3 separate regions of the Homo sapiens genome follow, and all the other regions are linked to region 1. The links come from fine-mapping of genetic effects on gene expression. A gene starts in region 1. Each other region holds a variant in brackets. All regions are shown on one strand. Distances are from middle to middle.

Region 1 (8,323 bases):
TTGATATTTGCATGGCTGATGCAAAAGCAATGGTGGGTAAAACTGCTGGCGTCTAAACATAAATCAAGACTGTGGTATCAAAGTACCAGCAGTTACTGTATTCACCGCCACCATGCTTTCGCAGTTTGAGGGGAAAAAAAGCCAATTTCACTTAATGTCCTTATAAAGTAGTAAAGTTTATTACTTTTATTAAATCTTGACTTTTAATATTCAGTGTACTAAAACAAAGTACACACAAAGCTCCTGCTGTATACCAAAAAGTAAGGACAAGCACTGGTTTGATTGAGTTGTGAACTAAACTAGCCATGTTTTTCATAGAATACCATTTTTATCTCAAACAACAACTGACAGGCTATGCTTATTCCGACTTGGTGTAGCAGATATTTTCTTGGACAAAATAAGCCTGTCACTTAAAGGAGAACAGCATGTGTTGCCAATGATAAAACTCAAGCTTTCAGACAACAATCAGAATTTTAGAAAACTTGTATGCATCTCTGAGAACTTGCAAGCTTCCCAATAAAGTTTTCTCTGAGATCAATGGTAATATTAATGAATATGATGTTTTAATAATGTATAATGAAATATGTCAACATTTGGAAGATCTGAAGTCAGTGAACCATTATTGTTTGTATGATCAATGAATAACATTAATTTTCAAGACAGACCAATGGAATGTCATGGAGTAAGAAAATTGCACTGCAGGTTCAGATTCCACATAACAAATAGTCTTTAAGGAACCACCATTTGTTGAGTTTTAGTGTAGTATCAAAGAAGACTATACTAAATTGTTTCTCCTTTTCTCAATTACAAATCTGTAGGAGGTTGGATTTTCTTCACGTATTTCAACCAAAACATGACATTGCAGCAGGTTGACTGTAGAAGCAAACAGGAGACTGCAATTGTCTTCTATGAAGCCAGCCAGCCAGCCATTAGAGAGATGTGTAAAAATGTAGCTATTTTTATTAAAAAAAATTCGGCCGGGCGCAGTGGCTCATACCTGTAATCCCAGCACTCTACTAGGCTGAGGTGGGAGGATCATGAGGTCAGGAGATCGAGACCATCCTGGCTAACACAGTGAAACCCCGTCTCTACTAAAAATACAAAAAAATTAGCCGGGCGTGGTGGCGGGTGCCTGTAGTCCTAGCTACTTGGGAGGCTGAGGCAGGAGAATGGTGTGAACCTGGGAGGTGGAGCTTGCAGTGAGCCGAGATCGCACCACTGCACTCCAGCCTGGGCAACAGAGCGAGACTACATCTCAAAAATATATATATATATATTTTAACATGTATCAGATTTATTGTGAATTTTTAAATAAATGTTTTAATAGTTTTCCATTTTAGCTTCTTTAAAGAGGTTGTGAGATAAAATGTTTGAGAGCTGCTAGCATAGAAAAAATGTGAGTGCTTAAAGCTTGCAACTGTGATTTATGTTAACATGTTAATTTTGCAGATAATCTTATAGCTCCATCTATTATAAGCCCCTTGTGCTGTATATAAAAAGGCCCCAGAGAAAGGAGTCAATAATGTACCTTGTACTTTACCTGGATGTAGTTATTACTCTGTTAAAAACTCATTATCTTTTACAGGTTTTACAAAGGTTAATAAAATCTCGAGGGAAATCTCAAGCTAAACACCTCAACGTCCAGATGGTAGCAGCTGATAAACTGGCTCAGTGTCCTCCAGTAAGTTATCTCTATATACAGCATAATCCAGTTACAGAGATCAGACCTTTTTTTTTTTTTTTTTTTTTTTTTTTTTTGGGGGACAAGGTCTTGCTCTGTTGCCCATGTTGGGAGTGCAGTGGTATGGTCTTAGCTCACTGCAGCCCTGAACTCCCGGGCTCAAGTGATCCTATTGCTTCAGCCTTCCAAGCAGCTGAGACTATAGGTGCATGCCACCATGATCGGCTAACTTTTTTTTTTCCCCCTGTAGAGACGGGGTCTTGCTATGTTGCCCAGGCTGGTCTAGAACTCCTGGCCTGAAGTGATCCTCCTGCCTTGGTCTTCCAAAGTGCTAGGATTACAAGCATGAGCTGCCATGCCTGGCCAGAACTGGCATTATATTTTGAAAAAAACAGTCAAACACCTGTCAGGGAAGAGAATCCTCATCACTTACAGTGGTATTCATTCCAAAGTAAACTGTCCTCCCTCCTTCCATGATCATGTGTTTTGAGCACAAGTAATCCAAACGATGATCATAGCTTACCAAAAGCTTCCGTACATCCTGCAGTAACTTCACTTTGTTAATATCCAACACAAGATCCTGGTTCCGAAAATTTGGCTTGTATGATGAGTCTATTTGGAGTTGGTATATTATTCATTTCTGATCATAGGGATCAAGTTGTCTGCTCTTAATAACTGTCTGAGACATTTATTTTCACATGGTCTCAAATCAATTTCTAAGTAATAAGTTACCTAGATTCTCACTTGTCGTCTATGCTTTACATGCAATGCCTTGAGGTATTAGAGCTTTCCTAGGTTTAGTTTTGGAGGCAGGGTCTTGCTTTGTTGCCCAGGCAGGAGTGCAGTGGTGGTGTCTCAGCTCACTATTGCAACCTCTGCCTCCCGGGCTCAAGTAATCCTCCCACCTCGGCCCTCCAAGTAGCTAGGACTACAGGCAAACGCCACCATGCCCTGCTAATTTTTGTATTCTTAGTAGAGACGGGGCTTTGCCATGTTGCCCAGGCTGGTCTCAAACTCCCGACCTCAAGTGATCCATCCACCTTGGCCTCCCAAAGTGCTGGGATTACAGGCATGAGCCACTGCACCAGGCTTTTTTTTCTTTTTAAGCATAGCCATTTCAGGGTCTATAAATATTTGATTGCTTAATATATGTTAAAATTTATAATAAACACTAAAAAATCTTTTGAAAAGTGGCATTATTTTCTTCTCTACTGAACTACTGTGAAGTTTGGACAATGTCAAAATTTCACATCCTAATCTTACCTTATTAATTTCTAAATTCAGATTTCATAATCTTGGGCCGGGCATGGTGGCTCATACCTGTAATCCCAGCACTTTGGGAGGCCGAGGCGGGTGAATCACTTGAGGCCAGGAGTTCAACACCAGCCTGGCCAACATGGCAAAACCCCATCTCTACTAAAAATACAAAAATTAGCAGGGCTTGGTGGTAGGCACCTGTAACCCCAGCTACTTGAGAAGCTGAGGCAGGAAAATCACTTGAACCTGGGAGGCCAAGGTTGCACTGAACCAAGATCAGGCCACTGCACTCCAGCCTGGGTAACAGAGTAAGACTCTGTCTCAAAAAAAGAAAAAGAAAAAAGATATCACAATCTTTATGTCAAGAACAGGCTTCTTCCTATTCTATTCTATTCTGTTCAAATATATATACATCTCTTTTCTACCATAGTATCTATGCCTTTTTCATTGCTGATTGATAGACAACTTTTCTGGGTTGCCATGTCCTTAACAACTGTTACCTTTCTGGCCATTATTTATTAGTTAAGCATTCAGTGCCCTCAACAATGATTTGAGGTAGTCAGACACTTCCTAACTAAATAAAAAGGGAGATAGTAGCAGCACTTATAGAAGCAGGAGCAAGTACAAAGGGGTGCAGCTCATGAGCCCCTTCCTCCTCTTATGGAGGTGGGAAGGGGGTGAAAACTGGGCTGGCATCAATGTGGTCTGGAATGTCTGCCTCTGCAGGAGCTGTTCGATGTGATCTTGGATGAGAACCAGCTTGAGGATGCCTGTGAGCACCTTGCCGACTATCTGGAGGCCTACTGGAAGGCCACCCATCCTCCCAGCAGTAGCCTCCCCAACCCTCTCCTTAGCCGTACATTAGCCACTTCAAGTCTGCCTCTTAGCCCCACCCTAGCCTCTAATTCACAGGTAAGGGGAGTTTTTATATATATCTATATATACAATCTTCATAGAAAAAAGGTTGCCTATGGTGACACCTCTAGGATCCAAGCCCAGTAGCCTGCTTGGGGCTTGTTCTAGTATATTAACTCAAAGCAAGTCCAGCATGAGCTGTGTATGTACCTGTAAGAAAAGCACCATCAACAGAATATATTGGGAACATACACAGACTACCGAAACTTTCTAAACAGTAGCATAGACTGTGGAAGTGGATCACCTAGATTCAAATCCTGGCTGCACCTCTTACCACTTGTGGGGTGGATAACCTGGGGCAAATTTCTTAACTGTTCTTACCTCAGGAATAATAATGGCAACCTGTCCAAGAGGCTGCTGGAATTAATAATCTCAAGAGATGATCTTATAGGGCTGTTGTATTAATGAGTTATTATATACAAAGGGTCTACAGAACAGTGCCTGTCCCATACTGTATCACTGTATCAGGTAAGCATTTGCTATTTTTAATATTCTCACATACAGTCAAGCAGAGGTAGTTAAGTTTACACCGCTGTATAGAAAAATCTCAGGGACCTGCATCTGTATTTGAGCCACAGGAGAATAAATAAAAGAACATTTTCCCTGCTGCTGCTTTTTTTTTTTTAAAGGAAAAAGTTACCATGGGCACTGTTCTAGGCACTTACAAAAGTCCAATTTAATATAGTATAGTATAAAGCCTTATAAATGCCACTGGATGTTACCAAAGGGATGAAGCTAGGTTAGACTTCATTTCAGCTTTTCGGATGCTTAAAAAGGACTCTGCTTGAATGCACTTGCTCTGGGACATGTTCTTTACACACTGACCTTGGTTAACGCCTGGTGTGCTCCTTTCGCTGCCAGGGTTCTCAAGGTGATCAGAGGACTGATCGCTCCGCTCCTATCCGTTCTGCTTCCCAAGCTGAAGAAGAACCTAGTGTGGAACCAGTCAAGAAATCCCAGCACCGCTCTTCCTCCTCAGCCCCACACCACAACCATCGCAGTGGGACAAGTCGCGGCCTCTCCAGGCAAGAGACATTTGACTCGGAAACCCAGGAGAGTCGAGACTCTGCCTACGTAGAGCCAAAGGAAGATTATTCCCATGACCACGTGGACCACTATGCCTCACACCGTGACCACAACCACAGAGACGAGACCCACGGGAGCAGTGACCACAGACACAGGGAGTCCCGGCACCGTTCCCGGGACGTGGATCGAGAGCAGGACCACAACGAGTGCAACAAGCAGCGCAGCCGTCATAAATCCAAGGATCGCTACTGTGAAAAGGATGGAGAAGTGATATCAAAAAAACGGAATGAGGCTGGGGAGTGGAACAGGGATGTTTACATCCGCCAATGAGTTTTGCCCGTTTGTGTTTTTTTTTTTTTTTTTTTGAAGTCTTGTATAACTAACAGCATCCCCAAAACAAAGTCTTTGGGGTCTACACTGCAATCATATGTGATCTGTCTTGTAATATTTTGTATTATTGCTGTTGCTTGAATAGCAATAGCATGGATAGAGTATTGAGATACTTTTTCTTTTGTAAGTGCTACATAAATTGGCCTGGTATGGCTGCAGTCCTCCGGTTGCATACTGGACTCTTCAAAAACTGTTTTGGGTAGCTGCCACTTGAACAAAATCTGTTGCCACCCAGGTGATGTTAGTGTTTTAAGAAATGTAGTTGATGTATCCAACAAGCCAGAATCAGCACAGATAAAAAGTGGAATTTCTTGTTTCTCCAGATTTTTAATACGTTAATACGCAGGCATCTGATTTGCATATTCATTCATGGACCACTGTTTCTTGCTTGTACCTCTGGCTGACTAAATTTGGGGACAGATTCAGTCTTGCCTTACACAAAGGGGATCATAAAGTTAGAATCTATTTTCTATGTACTAGTACTGTGTACTGTATAGACAGTTTGTAAATGTTATTTCTGCAAACAAACACCTTCTTATTATATATATAATATATATATATATCAGTTTGATCACACTATTTTAGAGTCTTAATGCCAAGTCAGCAGATTTGCTTTATGAATTACAGGGACTAGAAATGCCCACATTCAGGAAATTTGTAATAACATTGTCTAGACACCTATCCTCATTCTAGTAGAAAGTGTGTACATACTGTAAATATGTGTGATTGCTTGACTTGAAAAGGTTTGAATTCTGAATGTTATACCATCCTTGTAAGTAAGTTTGTAATTTCCACCATAAATTATGGTAAATATAAAACTCCAGAGGTTGTTCTACTCCATACAGTTCACACTGATTGTGACACATTCTTAGTAGCTAGTGTCTGTTCTAGTCACTGCACTGGAGTCTACGAGCCGGAACTCGCTATATGCACGTGTGTGTGTCCGTATGTAAGAAAGTGTGCACCGAGTGACTGAATGGTTGAGATGAATTGGAATGCTGAAGACTAACGAAGAAACTAGAGACTGATATCGAGCATTCTGCCCACCTCGCTCTGTATTTAATTAATTGTGCTATATGTTGCTTTAACAACCCATTGAGCAGTCAGGGAATGTGAGTAAGCTTGCTGCCAAAGGTAACTAGGAAAGCATTCATCTGCTGCCTCCTTGTTTTTGCTCCTAGAGAGTGAAAATACAGGCAATTTTACTGTGAGTGTTTCACTGGAAATGTACAATCTTTGTGTGTTAGAGTATTTGTTTTAGTAAGAAATGTTTACACAGCTTGTGGAATTATTTCGTGGGAAAATAAATTTTTATAACTTCTCCCACTTCAATTTCTAACCTTGCCTATTGTTCCTGTTGTTTGTTTACCTCCCAGTTACCTACCATTCCTCCCCACCACCGACTCCAGCAGGTTCACTGTCTGTCAGAACCCAGAAGTGCTTCTTATAACCAAAGTTTCTGTTCTTCAGAAGAAATCAGGGCAAAATGGGGTGACTTGAAGTGAATAAAATGTTAAGAATATTATCCTACATAAGACATGTACACAGAAGGGGAACCTTGAAGACATTATCTCCATGCCTCAATTACACTGCTGTAAGAAGCTTACAATGTCATCATGTTTAAGGCTAAGACCTTTTCCGTGTCTCAAGTGTATATTTTGTCCAGTTATAACTGGATGGTAAGACAGTATTAAGAGTGCAAGTACCTGGCACTTGAAGTTTGTCCCAGGAAAATGCCTGTGTATAATTACCTAACTTCAGATCTGCACATTAACTTATTTAACAAAATAAATCAGCCGGGCGCAGTGGCTCATGCCTGTAATCCCAGCAATTTGGGAGGCTGAGGAGGGTGGATCACCTGAGGTCAGGAGTTCAAGACCAGCCTGGCCAACGTGGCGAAACCCCGTCTCTACTAAAAAGATAAAAAATTAGCCAGGTGTGGTGGTGCACACCTGTAATCCCAGCTACTTGGGAGGCTGAGGCAGGAGAATTGCTTGAACCCAGGAGGTGGAGCCTGCAGTAAGCCAAGATCACACCACTGTACTCCAGCCTGGGTGACAGAGTGAGACTCCATCTCCAAAAAAGAAAAAAAAACAAAAAACAAAAAAAACTATCCAGCAAAATTATAAAATCTACTTTGTTTTGCTTCCTTGATTATTCCAAGTTCTTACCAAATATTCTTAGCCTTTTATAAGTAAAACTGTTTTACATTTAACTCCTTATTTCCCTTACCCCCAAGAAAACGCAATATTAAAAATGATTAAGCTGGGGTGGTAGAGTATACCTGTAGACCCAGCTACTTGGGAGGCTGAGATAGGAGGATCCCTTGAGCCCAGGAGGTGGAGGCTGCAGTGAACCGTGACTGTACCAATGCACTCCAGCCTGGTGACAACCTGGTGTTTAAAAAAAGAAAATAAAAATTAGTTACATATATAATGTTTTATCAGCTTATATATGAAAAAATTTCCCTCAGTTCGTTAATTAGCCCTACACTGTTTACATAAATTTATTTACTGAGTATAAAATCAGTAGTCATAATAAACTTGACAATTCTTACATTGGTAGGAAACCATATTCTAATTAAAATTGAATTTATAAAATATTTCTGATAAAACTTTTGTCATGGTAAGAGATTCACAATTATTAGTTCAATCCTTTATTATTTCATCCCAATTAATGATTTTAGAATATTTAAATTCTTGAAACATAGCTAGTATTTATCTTACTTGCTGCTATCATTAATCCCTTTCAAAAAGTAGTGGTGAGAGTTTCCATCTTTTTTATTTTGTATCTAGATTCTTAGCTTGCACTTTACTGTAGAACATATTAGTGCAAATCAGAATATTCCTCAAAGAACTAGCTTGAAGGATTTGACATAAGAGCCGCTATATGTGAAAAACTGTATAGTGGACATATGTGTAAACTGTGTAGTAAATCTGTAAATGAGGAAATAATCTCAAGGGCAATGGGATATTTACTGACCTGCGGAATGTAAAGTTACAGTCTTTTCACACAACAAAGGCTTAACCTTAACCTACTCAGTTGTAGAGCCAT
Region 2 (8,323 bases), 24 kb before region 1:
AACCTGACTCAGGCTATGTGTGTGGAAAGCCAAACACCTGGGCAACGTTGCAGCCAAAGATGTATACGTTTCCACTCTTTCTTTGTTTTTTTTTGAGATGGAGTCTCACTGTCACCCAGGCTGGAGTGCAGTGGCACAATCTCAGCTCACTGAAGCCTCCATCTCCCAGGTTCAAGTGATTCTCCCACCTCAGCGTCCCAAGTAGCTGGGATTACAGGCACCGGCCACCACACCTGGCTAATCTTTGTATTGTTAGTAGAGACAGGATTTTACCATGTTGGCCAGGTTGGCCTCGAATTCCTGACCTCAAGTGATCCACCCACCATGGCTTCCCAAACTGCTGGGATTACAGGCATGAGCCACCATGCCCAGCCTCACTCTTATTTTAAAAAACAAAAATACAACTGATGATCACAGCAGGCTAGATTCAATGGGCAAATCACAAAATTCAACTCATGAACTTGACTGTCCAAGGGTCCTGTAAATTCTGACATCCAACTGGTTATCTTCATTTTAGGAGAGCCCTCAAAGGGTACTATCCCTTGAATGTGGTCTTTATGAGCCCAATAAAAGATGAGAAAGATAAAACCTGTGGGAATTTACCACCAGCAAGGAAACTCTTGATTTTGGTTAACATGTATTGTAGGAATAATGAATTCCTGACGCAGATTTTGTCCTTCATATCCAGGAAAGCGCTGACAACATGCTGCTTGAGTTGAGATTCAAGGAAAAACATTTCTGAAGAGTTTTCTGAGACTCTTGCCTGGCTTATGCCATTCAATAAGCCCCATAAGGAAACTTTCCTATATGAGCAAAGGATTAGCTATAGGATGGTATAAAAGTCAGCACTGGATAAAGCCCTAGGCACATTTTATGTTTTCTCTACATACCACATGTTAAACCTTTTAGCACATCAGTATGCATAGATGGGGCAAAGAGGAAGACATACTTACTATATTAGGTCTACGTAATTAGGACTGAATTAATTCCATTATTACCTTTTTTTTGATAGAAAATCATACCTCCTGCATTATGCAAGCAATAGCTGATTATTTGTAATAGTGTACAAACAATGGCAGGTATTCACTCCATCACAGGTTTCCTACCTCACCAAATGAAAAGGAATAATTAAATAAGAGAGCCTAGTTTTCAAAAGGCTGCTTCATTTAATATTCATAACAACTTCAAAACTGAAAAATAATGTAATGCCTGTCAGATGATCTTCCATCCTTTGAAAAGGTTAGAAGAAGCTGCTGTGAGCAGTTCAGCTTGTGTATCCCAGGGAATGGTAGCTGTATTGTAACACCAAGTTGTCTGTTATTTCAAACTGGTAATTTGTTCCTTCCTTCAATCTAAATGTACTGTGGTTTTTGTTAGAGAGCTAACATGTATAATATGATGCTTTCCTGCAGTGAGTAAATTTTTTTTCTTCTCCTTGACTGATTCTTAACCGTAGAATAATTTTCTAGCTAGTCCAGCTCTATGATGTCATCCTGACTCCTGACATCAAGGACATGACCCCATTGAGGATGTGAAGGGAACTGAAAGAGGGCACCCAGATTGAGAAGGGACTTCGCCTGGATGGGCAGTGTGGTATAGGGACGGTTACAGACTCATTTAGGTGGGCACTGTGGTATACGGAGGGTTATAGACTCACTTACGCAGGAGGAGTAGGTCTGAATCCTGACTGCCAAGTTTTTGCCAAGAACAAGTCCCTTAAATTTTGAGTTTTTTAATCTTAAAAATAAGAGCCTTGAAGTTGATCTTTATTTCCATCTCTGACTCTGCAGTTGATAAAATTCTGTAGCTATTTCAATTGCATGTGGAAGGATTTTGTAAAATTTGAAGTGAGATTATGCATCTTTTTTTCTTGTAACACTTTTTAAGTACTATATTTTCAGGTGGAACAATGGGAAAAGTAAATCATGTCAAGCAACAAAGCTAAACCTTTCATTTTACAGATGAGGAAACCAGTGGCATATCCTCTTGGGTCCTCGTGCCCTTCCACTCTGCCTCTTTTGTTAAACCCAGTGGCTTTGCATAAGTCACCAGAAGTCTTCCAATGTCATTTTATTAGACAGATTTCACTCGGATATCTTGGGACCCAGTGTTTTCCCATTAGTCTTCATCAGCCTAAAATCATCTTAATCCTGTCCTTCCTGGAGCCCTCCCTGAATCATTGGCCTTGTGTATGACTCCTTTGCATTGACTGGATTGAGAATTTTCCATTCTCTCTTTTTCTCAAATGTCTGTTGCAATTTTAGGGAAACTTTTCACACTGTCCTTATTTTTACACAAAATCTGCAAAAAGAAAAATCTTTTTTTGCACATTGTATTGTTGGTGCAAATGTAATTGCGGTTTCGGACCATGGATTTTAAATGATAACTAGGCCTAAATACATCTTTATTAATCAAAATAGGAAACACTACAATCAACACATTTTTGCCAAGGAGAAATAAGTGTGTTTATTCCTGTAGCATAAAACTCCATGCTTTGGGATTCGGCAAACTCTTGAAAAGCACTTTCTGCATCCTGCTGGTTGTGGAAGAATTTTCTCTGCAAAAAGTTGTCAAGATGCTTGAAGAAATGGTAGTTGGTTGGCAAGAGGTCATGTGAATATGATGGATGAGGCAAAACTTCGTAGCCCAATTCATTCAACTTTTGAAGCGCCGGTTGTGTGATGTGCAGCCAGGCGTTGTCACGGAGAAGAACTGGGCCCTTTTTGTTGACCGACGCCGGCTGCAGGTGTTGCAGTTTTCGCTGCATCTCATCGATCTGCTGAGCATACTTCTCAGATGTGATGTTTTCGCTGGGATTCAGAAAGCTATAGTGGATCACACCGGCAGCAGCCCACCAAACAGTGACCATAACCTTTTTTTTTTTTTTTTTTTTGGTGCAAGTTTGGCTTTGGAGCTTCTCAGTCCAACAGCTGAGCTGGTTGTCAGTGGTTGTCATATAAAATCCAATTTTCGTCCCACGTCACAATCCGACTGAGAAATGGTTCATTGTTGTTGCACAGAATAAGAGAAGATGCTTCCAAACAACAATTTATTTTTGCTTGGCTCATGAGGCACCTACTTATTGAGTTTTTTCACCTTTCCGATTTGCTTCAAATGTAGAAAGACCATAGAATGGTCAATGTTGAATT[C/G]TTCAGCAACTTCTCGTGTAGTTGTAAGAGAATCAGCTTTGATTATTGTTCTTGAGTAGTCGCTGTCAACTTCCAATGGTCAGCCACTATGCTCCTCATCTTCAAGTCCCTCGTCTCCTTTGCAAAGCTTCGTGAACCACCACCGCACTGTACGTTCATTAGCAGTTCCTGGGCCAAATGCATTGTTGATATTGCAAGTTGTCTCCACTGCTTTACGACCCATTTTGAACTCGAATAAGAAAGTCACTCAAATTCGCTTTTTGTCTGACATCATTTCCATAGTCTAAAATAAACATAAACAGCAAGTAATAAGTCATTAGCAAAAACGCATAAAGCGAGAAATGCGCATTAAAATGATATATAACATAACCACATTTATTTAAGAATGTATTCCAATATCAAATGGCAAATTCCAACAGTGCAAAAACCGCAATTACTTTTGCATTCACCTATAATAAAGGTTTTCAAAGTAGTTGTTTGTTATCTCAAAGCTGGTTTAAGATATTGTAATGAAGTCAAATGTTCTGTACTGCACTTTTATACAGTTGATACAGAGAAAATCAACATTATATTTGAAACTACAGATTTAAAATGTTTCTCTGAAAATATTCAAGACGTCTAGCATGAAACTGATTCATTCAAGCAAACAGATTATAAGTGTATCTTTCAGTTTCATTAGATTTGATTACCTTGCATTCTTAATGTGCCTTACCTTTAAATTTAATTTTCTTGCGTACTGTGTTGAGCACTCATGATAGTTTTTTTTACTATGGTTAGTTTTATTTGCTTTCATTTTATTTTCTTTATAACCTATTTTTCCTCTCCTGTCCACCTGATTTTTGAATTGTCTGTATATAGCTATAGACATAGATGCTACTGGCTTAGATGCAGAAGAAAATGATATTCCAGCAAACCACCGCTCCCCTAAACCCAGTGCAAACAGTGTAACGTCACCCCACTCCAAAGAGAAAAGAATGCCCTTCTTTAAGAAGGTAACATTAACTTCCAAGCTCCCATTGTCCACCTGCTCAACTGCACTGCGTCACATTTCTAGTCCTGTTGACTGTCTGCGTCCTTTGATAAGCCAATAACGTGCATGCTCTGTTATTTGTTTCTTTTCCATGCTGCTGTAGCTAAGCAGAAGCAGAAATCGGTAAGTTTACATTGACATAAGCTGTGTTTATCCTGCCACTGGCATCATTAGCATTAATTCCCACAGTTGTATTAAATACAATCATTTCTGTCCCAAGCAAAGAACCTATCAACAGCTAATTGAGTTCATGCATTTCAAACCAACTAAATTCAGGGAGTGACCTGTTAAAACACCATTACAGTACTTATCCTTTTTGATGGAATAATATCTACCACCAAGGGAATTTGTTTCAACATTCAGGGATGTCAAACACTGACAGCTCCACATAATGCACCTAAATTGTGCATGCTTATTCTATCTCTTTCTTTTATCCAGAAATTTAACTTATGATCAAACATATTAAAGCAGTTATTAAATTCTGACTTATGATATCCAGATACATAGCTTGTACTAAAAAAAAAAGTATTCAAGTTTTAATTTAGTCAGTATTTAAACTTCTAATCCACTAGGTGCAAAATCTGCAGATGAACAAGACCAGTGGAAAACTGCAGGCTTGTTTTGGCGGTTTACTGTGAGTTTTTCCTATTGTCATATATAAATATTCTCCCGATGTTCTTGCCTTCTCCATCAGTCAGATTTTACCATCTCACCCTTTGGACAGTGCAGCCAGTGGTCATGCGTAGAGCCTTTGCCATTGGCCATCCAAGATGCTACACAGCGAGGCTCCTTGTCCCCTAAATGGAAACTATAGGGTATTCCTGAGCTCTCCTTACTTCAGACAAAGCCTTTTCCTCACCCATTTTGTAGCTTTAAAGCATTATTTTTTAAGGACCACTAACCTCCCCCCAAATTTCCCTTTTTTTCCCCTCTTTTACCCATCAGTTTCCACAGCTACCATGCTGTCTTTTAGAATCATACTAATGTCGCCAAGTCTGGCAAAACCATGGATATATTCTCACACGCAGATGTGATGTCAAATCTGTCTATCCTCTGCCCCCAAACTCTCCACATAATGAACACTTTTCCTCTGCAAACATGTATTTTGGTTTGTGGAGGAACTCAAGTCATTAATGAGGTGTCAGATACAGAACTGTAAAGTTGGCTTTTTTTGAATCAATTATGATTATTTTAATAAGGGAAAACTTCAGCACTCTGGGCAAAAATTGCAACACTTGGATTTTTGTGTTAACATAGCCTCAGCTTGATGTTCACCCACAACAGTGGGCCCATTTCTGGGGTCCGATCTTCTTGTTACAGCTAAAGCTTGCAGCCAAGTGACTAACAGTGTCTATCATTCAGAAGCTTAGAAAATCGGCATCGCTAAGACATTTGGGCCTTGACGGAGCAGGAATGTGAGCTAAAACCCTGTTTGTCAAGATAGGTTTGTGAAGTTTGCTTACCTTTAAATTCTAAAACTTTAAAAACTTTTATCACAATTTTTTCACTAAATAATTTGAGCAGGCAGGGCGCAATGGCTCACACCTGTAATCCCAGCCCTTTAGGAGGCTGAGGCAGGTGCATCACCTGTGGTCAGGAGTTTTGAGACCAGCCTGGCCAACATGGTGAAACCTCATCTCTGCTAAAAATACAAAAAATTAGCCTGGCATGGTGGCAGGCACCTGTAATCCCAGCTACTTGGGAGGCTGTGGCAGAAGAATTGCTTAAACCCGGAAGGCGGAGATTGCAGTGAGCCGAGACCATGCCACTGCACTCCGGCCTGGGCAACAGAGCTAGATAACTCTGTCTCAAAAAAAAGAAAAAAAAAATCAAGCTAAATGGGGTTAACAGGGAAGAGTAGATAAAAATGATGGCGTCATTCTTCATAGGGCACAAAGCACCAATATTCCATCAAATAAGGTAATTTCTGTAGCTACCCTATTGATTAAGAAGCTGATTGATTACCAGCAACGGGTGACCCTTTGCTAGTTGGCAGTTACAGATCGAAGGAACCAAAGACCTATCAAACACTGGGCCACTTCAGAATTAAAGTCTTGAGATAAAATTTCTTGGTAGCTGTTACTAAAATGCAGGAAATTTACATTCATAATTTCAACGGTGGAAAAGGTGTTCTTACACCGCATAGTTATCAGGACTTGGCTTCTAAACGTTTTCAGTATGATCCCAGGTGGTATAAATGAAATAGTTTAAGAAATATGCTTATGATGCCTTCGGCACTGGTATTCATTCTTCTTATGTTATTGATAATGTGGTTAACATCAATGTAGAATTCAAAAACAAAACAACAGCCTGAGATTCAATGAGAAGATCGTTTTCTATGTTTTAGGTTGCTTTTAGAGTGGTGCTTGTGTGGTACGTGTGCTGTCACTGTATTATGTTTGTCTTGTTTTTTTTTTTTCTGTTCAAAACTGTATTCTACCTTGATTGTGTCAATTAAAATTAATTCTGAATGCTAGGTGAAATTTTAGGCAGTGAAATTTGACAGCACAGTCATGGTAATATTTTTCTTCCCTCTGATTATATCGTCTGTGACTACGGGTAAAATCTCAGATGGAAGCTTTTGAATTTGAAATGCTTTTTAATTCTCCCCTGAGGCAATGTGAATTCAAATGAAGCCAGAAAAGTTTGTAATGGGCAATTTTAAGCAACAATAAAATGTTCTTGAGTGACGGGCAGATGCAAAAATGACATTCATATCTGCACATCAGTGTACTGAATTCTTAAAATCATTTACAGAACATTTTTCTGTTGGTGTGTGTGATTCTCAAGTTATATTTTTTGACACTCCTTAGCCAGAAAGATTCATATAGCAATGATTTGCTTATCGCAGTGTCTAAGGCCATATCACTCTTATGCATTTTTTTAAAAAGTCATTTTTGGGTCAATTTAGCATTTTATGCTATCAAAAGAGCCAATTTTAATATAAACCAATTTGCTGTTACCTAATTTTTGGAAAGATGTTATTTTACCATTTTATTTGAAGCAATTAACCTGAAAAGTGTTGACAGTTTTAGAAATTGCTACAAAATTTAGCTCCTCCCCTCTTATTAAAAAGAAATAATTTACTGCAGAAAGATGTCATTAGTTATCTGACAGAAAACTACTTTTGAGAATCATATTAGATATGCACATTGATAATGAACCTTTTGAGACCACAATAGCATGGTTGAATATATTATTATACATTAATCACCTTCCCTCGAAGACACATAAACCTTACCTTTGAAGTACCAAGGTATAGAAACCAAAAAATTCAATAGCATTAATCACTAAGCTGTGAGCAGGGATCATGATTACTGTTTACTAAAATAAGCATGCATGTTCATTTAAACTCTCACAATAATATAGAATTTTGACAGTAGTGAGAGTTACAATATTTTGAGATTAGGTAAAAAGTATTGGTAGTGAGAGTTATAATATTTTGAAATGAGGTTTTACACAGGTAAGACAAAAACCTAAGATGCAAAGGTAATGCAATCTTTCTTTCCTCTGTAATTAACCATGTTAGGTCTAATCACTACAACTCTTTAGAAAATTCAAATGCAGCCGAAAAGCAATATTAACTTCTAGTCAAGCCTAAAGCACCTATCTTGCATGAGGCATGTTTCTCTTTGTTCTGTCAACTAGTTTTTGTTCAAAAGCAGCATCTCTTGCTTTAGGAACGAATAGGTCTGTAGCATTTCTTGAGATGAGCAAGAAGACTGTAGACAACAGTAACTTGAAACTTCAGGAAAATGAACCCACCAATCTTTGACTGGGTTTATGTAGAAAAGAGGCAAGTGGGGAAAATAAAATGTCTGGAAAGCCAGTGCCTCATATTATGGAGTTCAGAAAGAGTACCTTATACACAAAATATTTATGTTCTACCTGCCTGTGAAACGTCTAAAAGCCTCTCCTCTCTCTGCAGACAGAGCACACTCCTCCGTATGATGTGGTACCTTCCATGCGACCAGTGGTCCTAGTGGGCCCTTCTCTGAAGGGCTACGAGGTGGGTAGCAGCCTTCCACAGGAAGCTTAACTTGCATGCTGAACTTCTTTGTGATGCTGCCTCCTACTCCCGACCCTCTCTCTGAATTTTACAGCTTAAGGAGCCAACTTTAGAGCTTAGAGAGCTCACAGCAGC
Region 3 (8,323 bases), 130 kb after region 1:
TACAGGTGTCTGCCACCACGCCCGGCTGATTTTCTGTATTTTTAGTAGAGACGGGGTTTCACCATGTTAGCTAGGATGGTCTCGATCTCCTGACCTTGTGATCCTCCCACCTCGGCCTCCCAAAGTGCTGGGATTACAGGTGTGAGCTACTGCGCCCGGCCCCAGCTTATTCTGCTCTTAACTCTGGACTGTAAGCAGGTTTCAAACACACTAAACTTAAACTTATCATCTATCTGCATCCTGTCTTCCAGACCATTCTTTGTTTTTGTTTTGTTTTGTTTTGTTTGAGACGGAGTGTTGCTCTGTCACCAGGCTGGAGTGCAGTGGTGCAATCTCAGCTCACTGCCACCTCTGCCTCCCAGGTTCAAGTGATTCTCCTGCCTCAGCCTCCCAAGTAACTAGGACTATAGGCACCTGCCACCATGCCCGGCTAAGTTTTGTATTTTTAGTAGAGACGGAGTTTCACCAAATTAGCCAGGTTGGTCTTGAACTCCTGACCTTGTGGTCTGCCCACCTCAGCCTACTGAAGTGCTGGGATTACAGGTGTGAGCCACCATGCCTGACCTGGCTAACTTTTTTCTTAAGAGATGGGATATTACTGTATTGCCCAGTTTGGTCTCAAACTCCTAGATTTAACTGATCACTTCTCCTTGGCCTCCCAAAGTGTTGGAATTACAGGTGTGAGTCATTGCACCTGGCCTAAAACATTCTGATTTACTGTAACTGATAGTAACAGTAGTGTCTTTTTTTTTTTTTTTTTTTTTTTTTTGAGATGGAGTCTCGCTCTGTTGCCCAGGCTGGAGCACAGTGACCCGATCTCGGCTCACCGCAAGCTCCGTCTTCCGGGTTCATGCCATTCTTCTGCTTCAACCTCCCAAGTAGCTGGGACTACAGGCACCCGCCACCATGCCCGGCTAATTTTTTTGTATTTTTTGTAGAGACAGGGTTTCACCGTGTTAGCCAGGATGGTCTTGATCTCCTGACCTCGTGATCCTCCCACCTCGGCCTCCCAAAGTGCTAAGATTACAGGCGTAAGGCACCACGCCTGGCCTAACAGTAGTGTCTTAACCTAACATTTCCTCATGTTAGGGACCTACCTTTCAAAATGGTGCATTATTGGTGAGTTTTACCATCACAGGCCTTCAGTATTATGTGAAGCATCATAGTGCAAAAGTGAAGCAAGGAGCAGGATTGTTTGCAAATGACCTGGGTCTTCATTTGAGTTGCTTCAAGAAGGAGCCATCTGGTACTGTCCTTCCATTCCTTTCTCCCAACAGGATTATCTGCCTTCAAGTTTTGCTTATCTTTAAACTAGTGGCTTCCTTCTCACCACTGCAGGCATGTTGTTTTCTGTAGATGCTTGGTAGGTGGAGCTTCTAGCTGTCACCAAAATTTAGAATGCTTAGTGCCAGGCAGTCTGTTTGTTCCTCACTGATAAAGGTTCTTGTACTTTAAGGGATAACAAACAGGGTAATACTTAAAGATTAGCTTCATTAGAGGACATGTAGCCAAGCTTGGTGGTGTGCACCTGTGGTCCCAGCTATTCAGGAGGTTCAGGTAGGAGGATCACTTGAGCCTGGGAGGTCGAGGCTGCAGTGATCATGCCCCTGCACTCCAGCCTGGGCAACAAAGCAAGACCCTGTCTCAAATAAATAAGGAGAATTATAGTGAGTTATACTAAGCAGGCAAGTTTTGTTTTGTTTTACAAAGCAGCTTCTACCATAGTGAAAATAGCCCTTCCAGAGGACCGTGTCTGTTTATCCTGCACTGTAATAGGCTGTATCTAGAGTGTGTAGGTCATTGGAAGACCTGCACATCTCAAGAACTTAAATTTTCTTGGTCCCTCTTTTTTTGGCTGATGAAGTTTAGAACTTCAGAGTAGGAATATGAGCTGATAGTTGATTATATGACCAGAATGTTGACATTCACCAGAGGTCATCAAGAAGAGCGGGATTCTGATATGAGATGTGCCCAATCGTTGCCTACAAATCAACTGTGTTGTGATTCTGTGGAAACTTCCCTACTTACCCTGTTGATGTTAACTTGTAACTTTTTAAGCATTCTTCTGCCTTGGAGAAGGGGATCTTTAGTATACTTGGCATAAGTGAAAATCTAGGAAAGATGGTATCTGGGTTGTTTTCTGTATTCAAAGGACATTGCAGAATATATACCACTTAACGGAATAATTAGATGAGCTTTAGCAACTACTTATTAAAAGAGGTGAATATTTAGTGCATGGCACCCAAAGGAGGAAAGAACTGAAGAGATTTTCATTGTACAAAGAGCAGAAACAGAATCTGCTCAAAAGAACTGTAGAAGCCGGTTGAAAAAATGTTAAACAATGAGTAATTGTGTAAAAACTTGAGAGTATATGTTTGTCTTTGTGACACATGAAACGTTTCAATTTTAAGCTTACATGGGATTTTTAAGTGAGAGGAAGAAACAGATCCTGGTATACATAGGTGGGGAAACTTACAGATATGAAAACATTTTGATAAAAAGCTAACTTGATTGGTACAGAGCTAAAAAGGTGTGTAAAACAGGCTTTTTAAAAAACTTACATTTAGGTTATAATTTTTGCCTAGATTAATATTTGGGTCTCCTCTCCCCTAGATGCAATATAAGTGACCAACTTTGCTGGTGTTTCCTGCCTACCCATCTCCCACATTCTTTTACATGAGAACTAGACAGAGAATCAATGATAATTGATTTTGTTACTTAACCTAGGTAGCCTTAACATCATAACATTTCTTTCTGCATTTTAAGTCTAGTGATAGATATTCAGTGAATGATTCTCATTAATGAGCTAACTAATAATCATTGTTGAAAGCATGTAATTGCAGTAATGCAGTAGTGTTAAATGTTTATGATTTGCTTTCTTTTTGTAGAACACAAAGTAATTATAGTGGGACTGGATAATGCAGGGAAAACCACCATTCTTTACCAATTGTAAGTATGGGTGTTTATTAAACAGTTTTCACTAGTTATTGAAACTAATGTGTTTACAATTAATAAGAGATGCATTATAATAATGACGGAAAAACTTAAATATATGTTTTTTGTTTTTTGTTTTTTTAATTTTACCGAACACAATCTATAGAAAAGTGAGTGAAATAAACATTTGCTAAACCCTTCACAAACACTTATTGTTTTCTGCCCTCGAAAGAAAGAAATTAATATTAAATAAATAAAGCGCATATTAGAAGTGCTGGGGTGAGGTGATAAAGTGGATTTCACTTAGTTCTTACCCCACTTGGGTTTATGTAAATAAATTGATAGCTCTAGGAAGCCATTGCTACCCTCCTGACTAATAGCTTTGGAATTTTTTAACATAGCCAGACTTGTCAAAAGAAATGTGATCACTCCTGAAAATATTGCTGTAGTAGCTTGCAAGAGGGAGAGTCTTGAGACTTTCAGAGAAATCTGTTAATACCTTAGGAAATTTTCACAGCTCATCATTCCACTTGTCAGAGTACCTTCCATTATCCTTTCAATGCCAATGAAATGATAGTATTAAGCAGTAGAAGTGGATCTACCAGGCACTTTAACAAAATAGTTCTACAGTTCTTTGCCCCATTGTGTGGCTCTTACCTCTTCCCACTCATGTTGCATTAGAAGACAGCCATCAGCTCACCAGAAGTACTTCATTAGCCAGTGATTAACGCATTTTTCAGCTACTTTGCTAAAAAGCTACTGACTTAAAGTTTGTTGTTTCAGAGTTGAACAACTACTTGTTTCTCTTGAAAACATTTTCATTCATTGGTGATTATGTGTTTAAATATGAATTAGCTTTTAAACATCACATATAAACATTTCAGAAACCTGTCATCTTTGTTGAAATAATTTTACACATGGCTTCAAAAATATACATAAAACCCAAGAGAATTGCAAGCCTCCTCCAACACAGTAGTGACATGTTACTGGCAAGGGCATATTTGTTGAATTAATTGATTAATGTAGCTTTACCAATGATTATGATAATACGAGGGGTATGAGCATCAGTATTCTAAATATATATATATATATATACACACACACACAAACACACACACACACATATTTGAGACAGAGTTTTGCTCTGTTTCTAAGGGTGGAGTGCAATGGCGTGATCTCCACCTCCCAGGTTCAGGCGGTTCTCCTGCCTCAGCTTCCAGAGTAGCTGGGATTACAAGCGCCCACCACCACGCCCTGCAAATTTTTGTATTTTTAGTAGAGACGAGGCTTCACCATGTTGGTCAGGATGGTCTCAAGTTCTTGACCTCAGGTGATCCACCCAAAGTGCTAGAATTATAGGTGTGAGCCACCACACCTGGCCTTCTAAATATATCTATAGTTAATTTAAATTTTTACTTGCCCATGGTCATCTTTTTAGGACTACTTTAGATTAATATGCCTGAATTAATTTTTGTGACTAAGTCTCAATTTAGACAGTCTTCAAAATTATAGATAGCCTGCTATCCAATATTTGCTATTTTGCAATCACCTAGAAACTTGCTTTTCAGGATGGCATGGGACATTGGGTCTTATCTAACTGATAACAGGGCATGGTGGTATTGGAATTTTTGGCCACAGAAATGCAAATTCACACCACACTGTTTCCTTTCTTTTCCATCAAGCTTGCAATTCCTTCCGTTAAAAAAAAAAACAAACAAGAAACAAGTCTTTCTTCTGGAGTTGTTATCTAGATATTGATTTGCGCAAGTGTTCTCCAGGTTTATAATTTTCATGCTAATGATCACCATCATTGGTGCAGAAGGTTGATTGATCTTAAAAATACAGAGATAAAAGTTGCTTCAGATTCTCAAGATTTACAAGAGCTTTTACGGTGTCTGTTTTTCAACAGCTTAATGAATGAAGTGGTTCATACTTCTCCAACCATAGGAAGCAATGTTGAAGAAATAGTTGTGAAGAACACTCATTTTCTTATGTGGGATATTGGTGGTCAGGAGTCTCTGCGATCATCCTGGAACACATATTACTCAAATACAGAGGTATGCTAAGATGAATTTTGAATTTTAATCCAAAGGTCCCTAGAGTAAACATAGAAAGTAATTAGGCTGCACCTGGGCGTATTGACAGTTGCCTTTTTTTTTTTTTTTTTTAAGACGGAGTCTTGCTCTGTCGCCAGGCTAGAGTGCAGTGGAGTGATC[T/G]TGGCTCGCTGCAAGCTCCGCCTGCTGAGTTCAAGCCATTCTCCTGCCTCAGCCTCCCAAATAGCAGGAATTACAGGCGAGTGCCACCACACCCGGCTAATTTTTGTATGTTTAGTAGAGACCGGGGTTTCACCATATTGATCAGGTTGGTCTTGAATTCGGGACCTCGTGATCCACCCTCCTTGGCCTCCCAAAGTGCTGGGATTACAGGCTTGAGCCACCGTGGCCGGCCTTTTAATAAGATCCTTTTTTGTAGGGAATTTGGGTTTCCTTTTTTTAAAAAATAAATAAATAAAAATTTCATAAATGAGACTTAAGAATTTGGGTTTTCGAATAAAAGAAAAGGCAAATAGAAAGATTGTTTGGAGCTATTATTACTTGAGTGCTTACTGTTTGGCCAGGTTCTCTCCATTCATCTTCACAAGATTTTCATGTCTCCAGGGTTGGAGAGATCTGACACGTGGAGATATTATGTAGGTTTCCCCAAGATCTCACAACTTTCTAAGAGACCCTGACCGGTGGAGGAATAAAATATTTTATTAATTTAAAAATTTTTTATACCATGAACATTCAAAATGTTGGTAGATTTTTTTTTAATTAGAAAAAAGTAGATTTGCAAATCATCTCTCAAAGTTCTCTGCCACTTATGAGTTCAGAGCTAACTTGGGGAACAAACCTGGATATATTCATGTTCTATTTCTGCTTTTATTTCTTATTAGAGGCAGATTTTTTTAAAAGCCATTCAATGTAGTTTAGAGAGATTTATCCTTGATAGTATGATTTCACAATTGCATCCATTTAATTGTTCTTTGCAAAGAAGTACACCTAACCAATTATTTTTTTCTAAAATGAAACCTTTTAAAAATTGGAGTTGGGCCAGACACGGTGGCTCACGCCTGTAATCCCAGCACTTTGGGAGGCCGAGGCGGGTGGATCATGAGGTCAGGAGATTGAGGCCATCCTGGCTAACACAGGTGAAACCCCGTCTCTACTAAAAATACAAAAAACTAGCCGGGCGTGGTGGGGCAGACTTGTAGTCCCCAGCTACTCAGGAGGCTGAGGCAGGAGAATCGCTTGAACCCAGGAGGCAGAGTTTGCAGTGAGCCGAGGTGGCACCACTGCACTCCAGCCTGGGTGACAAAACGAGACTCTTATCTCAAAAAAAAAAAAAAAAAAAATTGGAGTTGGAAGGGAAGAGGTAGAAAAGGATATAATATGAATAATTTTTGGTGAACAAAGTTGCCTCTTTAAAAAACATGTATTGTTCTAGATTTATATTATAATAGCATGTGTGTATGTGTGTATATATTCCAATGCAACGTGTAAGTAAACAAAGATGGCGTATCATAGATAATCAGAACTTGTGGTAGCACTGAATTATTTTATTGGGTATGCAGAAGCTGTAAGCAAATAATATAGTTAAAGGGTAGCTTATACATTTATACAGTAAAATAATGTTCTGAAACTAGAATAAGTTAGAAAGTAAGGGAAGGGCCAGGCGCAGTGGCTCACTTCTGTAATCCCAGCACTTTGGTAGGCCGAGGTGGGCAGATTGCTTGAGGCCAGGAGTTCAAGACCAGCATGGCCAACATGGCAAAACCCCATCTCTACTAAAAATACAAAAATTAGCCAGGCATGGTGGCATGTGCCTGTAGTCCCAGCTACTCCAGAGGCTGAGGCATGAGAATCGCTTGAACCTGGGAGGCGGAGGTGGCAGTGAGCTGAGATAGCACCACTGCACTCCAGCCTGGGTGGCAGAGTCTCGCTCTCTCTCAAAAAAAAAGAAAAGAAAGTAAGGGACAAATGACATTGTAGCATATGATTAATTTAAACATCAGAGCTGTTAGTAGTTTTAAGCTCACAGTTAACTCCAGCTGTGAAAAGGGCAGTTATCATTGATGAATAGGTCAAAGTTGATTCTAGTGAATCCATATGTACTTAAAGTGTGTCGAAAGGGTAGTTCTTGAAGTGACTGAAACTCTGGAGGACTTAGCATGGGTCCAGAAAGAGATATCCATTACTGATGCCATTTGCATGAAACGTTCTTTTAATAAGTGATCTCTACAAGAATATCAAAATTACTACAAAGAACAGTGGCGCCTGTCACTTTGCATTTTGAAAATTCTTCACGTGGAAGAGTCCCCCAAAAGCGGTAGTATGTCCATTATAATACAAGAAGTTACAGGTATTAAGTAATTATTGACACCTTCCTCTCATTAACTCACAGTTGTTTCCCATATTCTGTTGATTCCTCCTTTGCCACGCGACATTCTTTCCGTTTATTCCCTTCTAAGCCCAACTCAGTTTATATTCAGATTAGTTGTCTGTTTCCCTAATTTTATTTATTTTTGTTTTTTATTTATTTATTTTTTTGAGATGGAGTCTCAGTCTGTCACCCAGGCTGGAGAGCAGTGCAGCCTCCGCCTCCCAGGTTCAAAGGATTCTCCTCCCTCAGCCTCCGAAGTAGCAGGGACTACAGTACACACCACCACACCTGGCTGATTTTTGTGTTTTTAATAGAGACAGGGTTTCACCATGTTGGCCAGGTTGGTCTTGAACTGTCCTCAAGTGATATGCCCACCTCGGCCTACCAAAGTGCTGGGATTACAGGTGTGAGCCACTGCACCTAGCCTGTTTCCCTAATTTTAAAGTCATCTCTGTAATCTAATTCTACCCTTCATGTCTCAGTTTATTTTGCATCTATCTCCTGCTGTAATAACATCATTTCATCTCATTTCTTAACTTTTTATTCTGTATACAGTGTTCAGCTTAAGGGTGCTTTTTCGCTGTATCATCTCCTCCATCTCCTCCTCCTCCTCCCCCTCACCCACCCCCCACATTTTTTAAAAAATGAGTTAGGGCCTCTCTCTCACCCAGGCTGGAGTGTAGTTGCATGATTCTCAGTACAGCCTCAACTTCCTAGGCTCAAAGCAGTCCTCCCACCTTAGCCTCCCAAGTAGGTGGGACTATGTGCATGGCTAATTTTTATTTTTTGTAGAGAGACAGGTTCTCACTATGTTGCCCAAGCTAGTCTCAAACTCCTGGGCTCAAGCAGTCATCCCACCTCACCTCCCAGAGTGCTGGGATTATATGTGTGTGAGCCACAATGCCTGGCCTATATCTTCTTATTTTTTAATATGCAAACTCCCTTTTTTCATGTATAGCTTTACCAA

Alleles and levels. Alleles are on the strand shown, and positions count from the first base shown. SD is a standard deviation of normalised expression in the study named. Not every link is listed here.
For the expression in skeletal muscle of the gene that starts at base 4,761 in region 1, C is the low allele of the variant in region 2 and G is the other (moderate effect, 0.45 SD a copy in GTEx).

The links.
Region 2: its variant is fine-mapped to the expression of CACNB2-AS1 in skeletal muscle (GTEx, PIP 0.98).
Region 3: its variant is fine-mapped to the expression of CACNB2-AS1 in whole blood (TOPMed, PIP above 0.99).

The regions. Positions count from the first base shown.
Region 1 is chr10:18,534,516-18,542,838 of GRCh38, forward strand. CACNB2-AS1 (CACNB2 antisense RNA 1) reads right to left here and starts at 4,761. Exons shown (of 3, transcript XR_007062076.1): 1 at 4,679-4,761. CACNB2 (calcium voltage-gated channel auxiliary subunit beta 2) reads left to right here. Exons shown (of 14, transcript NM_201596.3): 12 at 1,586-1,681; 13 at 3,665-3,850; 14 at 4,715-8,323. The coding sequence ends at 5,209. It overlaps LOC124902387 (a long non-coding RNA gene), which reads right to left and starts at 281. Exons shown (of 2, transcript XR_007062077.1): 1 at 1-281.
Region 2 is chr10:18,510,229-18,518,551 of GRCh38, forward strand. CACNB2 (calcium voltage-gated channel auxiliary subunit beta 2) reads left to right here. Exons shown (of 14, transcript NM_201596.3): 7 at 4,008-4,141; 8 at 8,108-8,188. It overlaps CACNB2-AS1 (CACNB2 antisense RNA 1), which reads right to left. Exons shown (of 3, transcript XR_007062076.1): 2 at 4,174-8,323; 3 at 2,388-3,432. Among named protein-coding and RNA genes, the nearest start is that of CACNB2-AS1, 25 kb to the right of the region's middle. The variant C/G (reference allele first, on the strand shown) is at 3,150.
Region 3 is chr10:18,663,687-18,672,009 of GRCh38, forward strand. It overlaps ARL5B (ARF like GTPase 5B), which reads left to right. Exons shown (of 6, transcript NM_178815.5): 2 at 2,889-2,949; 3 at 4,844-4,991. Among named protein-coding and RNA genes, the nearest start is that of ARL5B, 8.4 kb to the left of the region's middle. The variant T/G (reference allele first, on the strand shown) is at 5,151.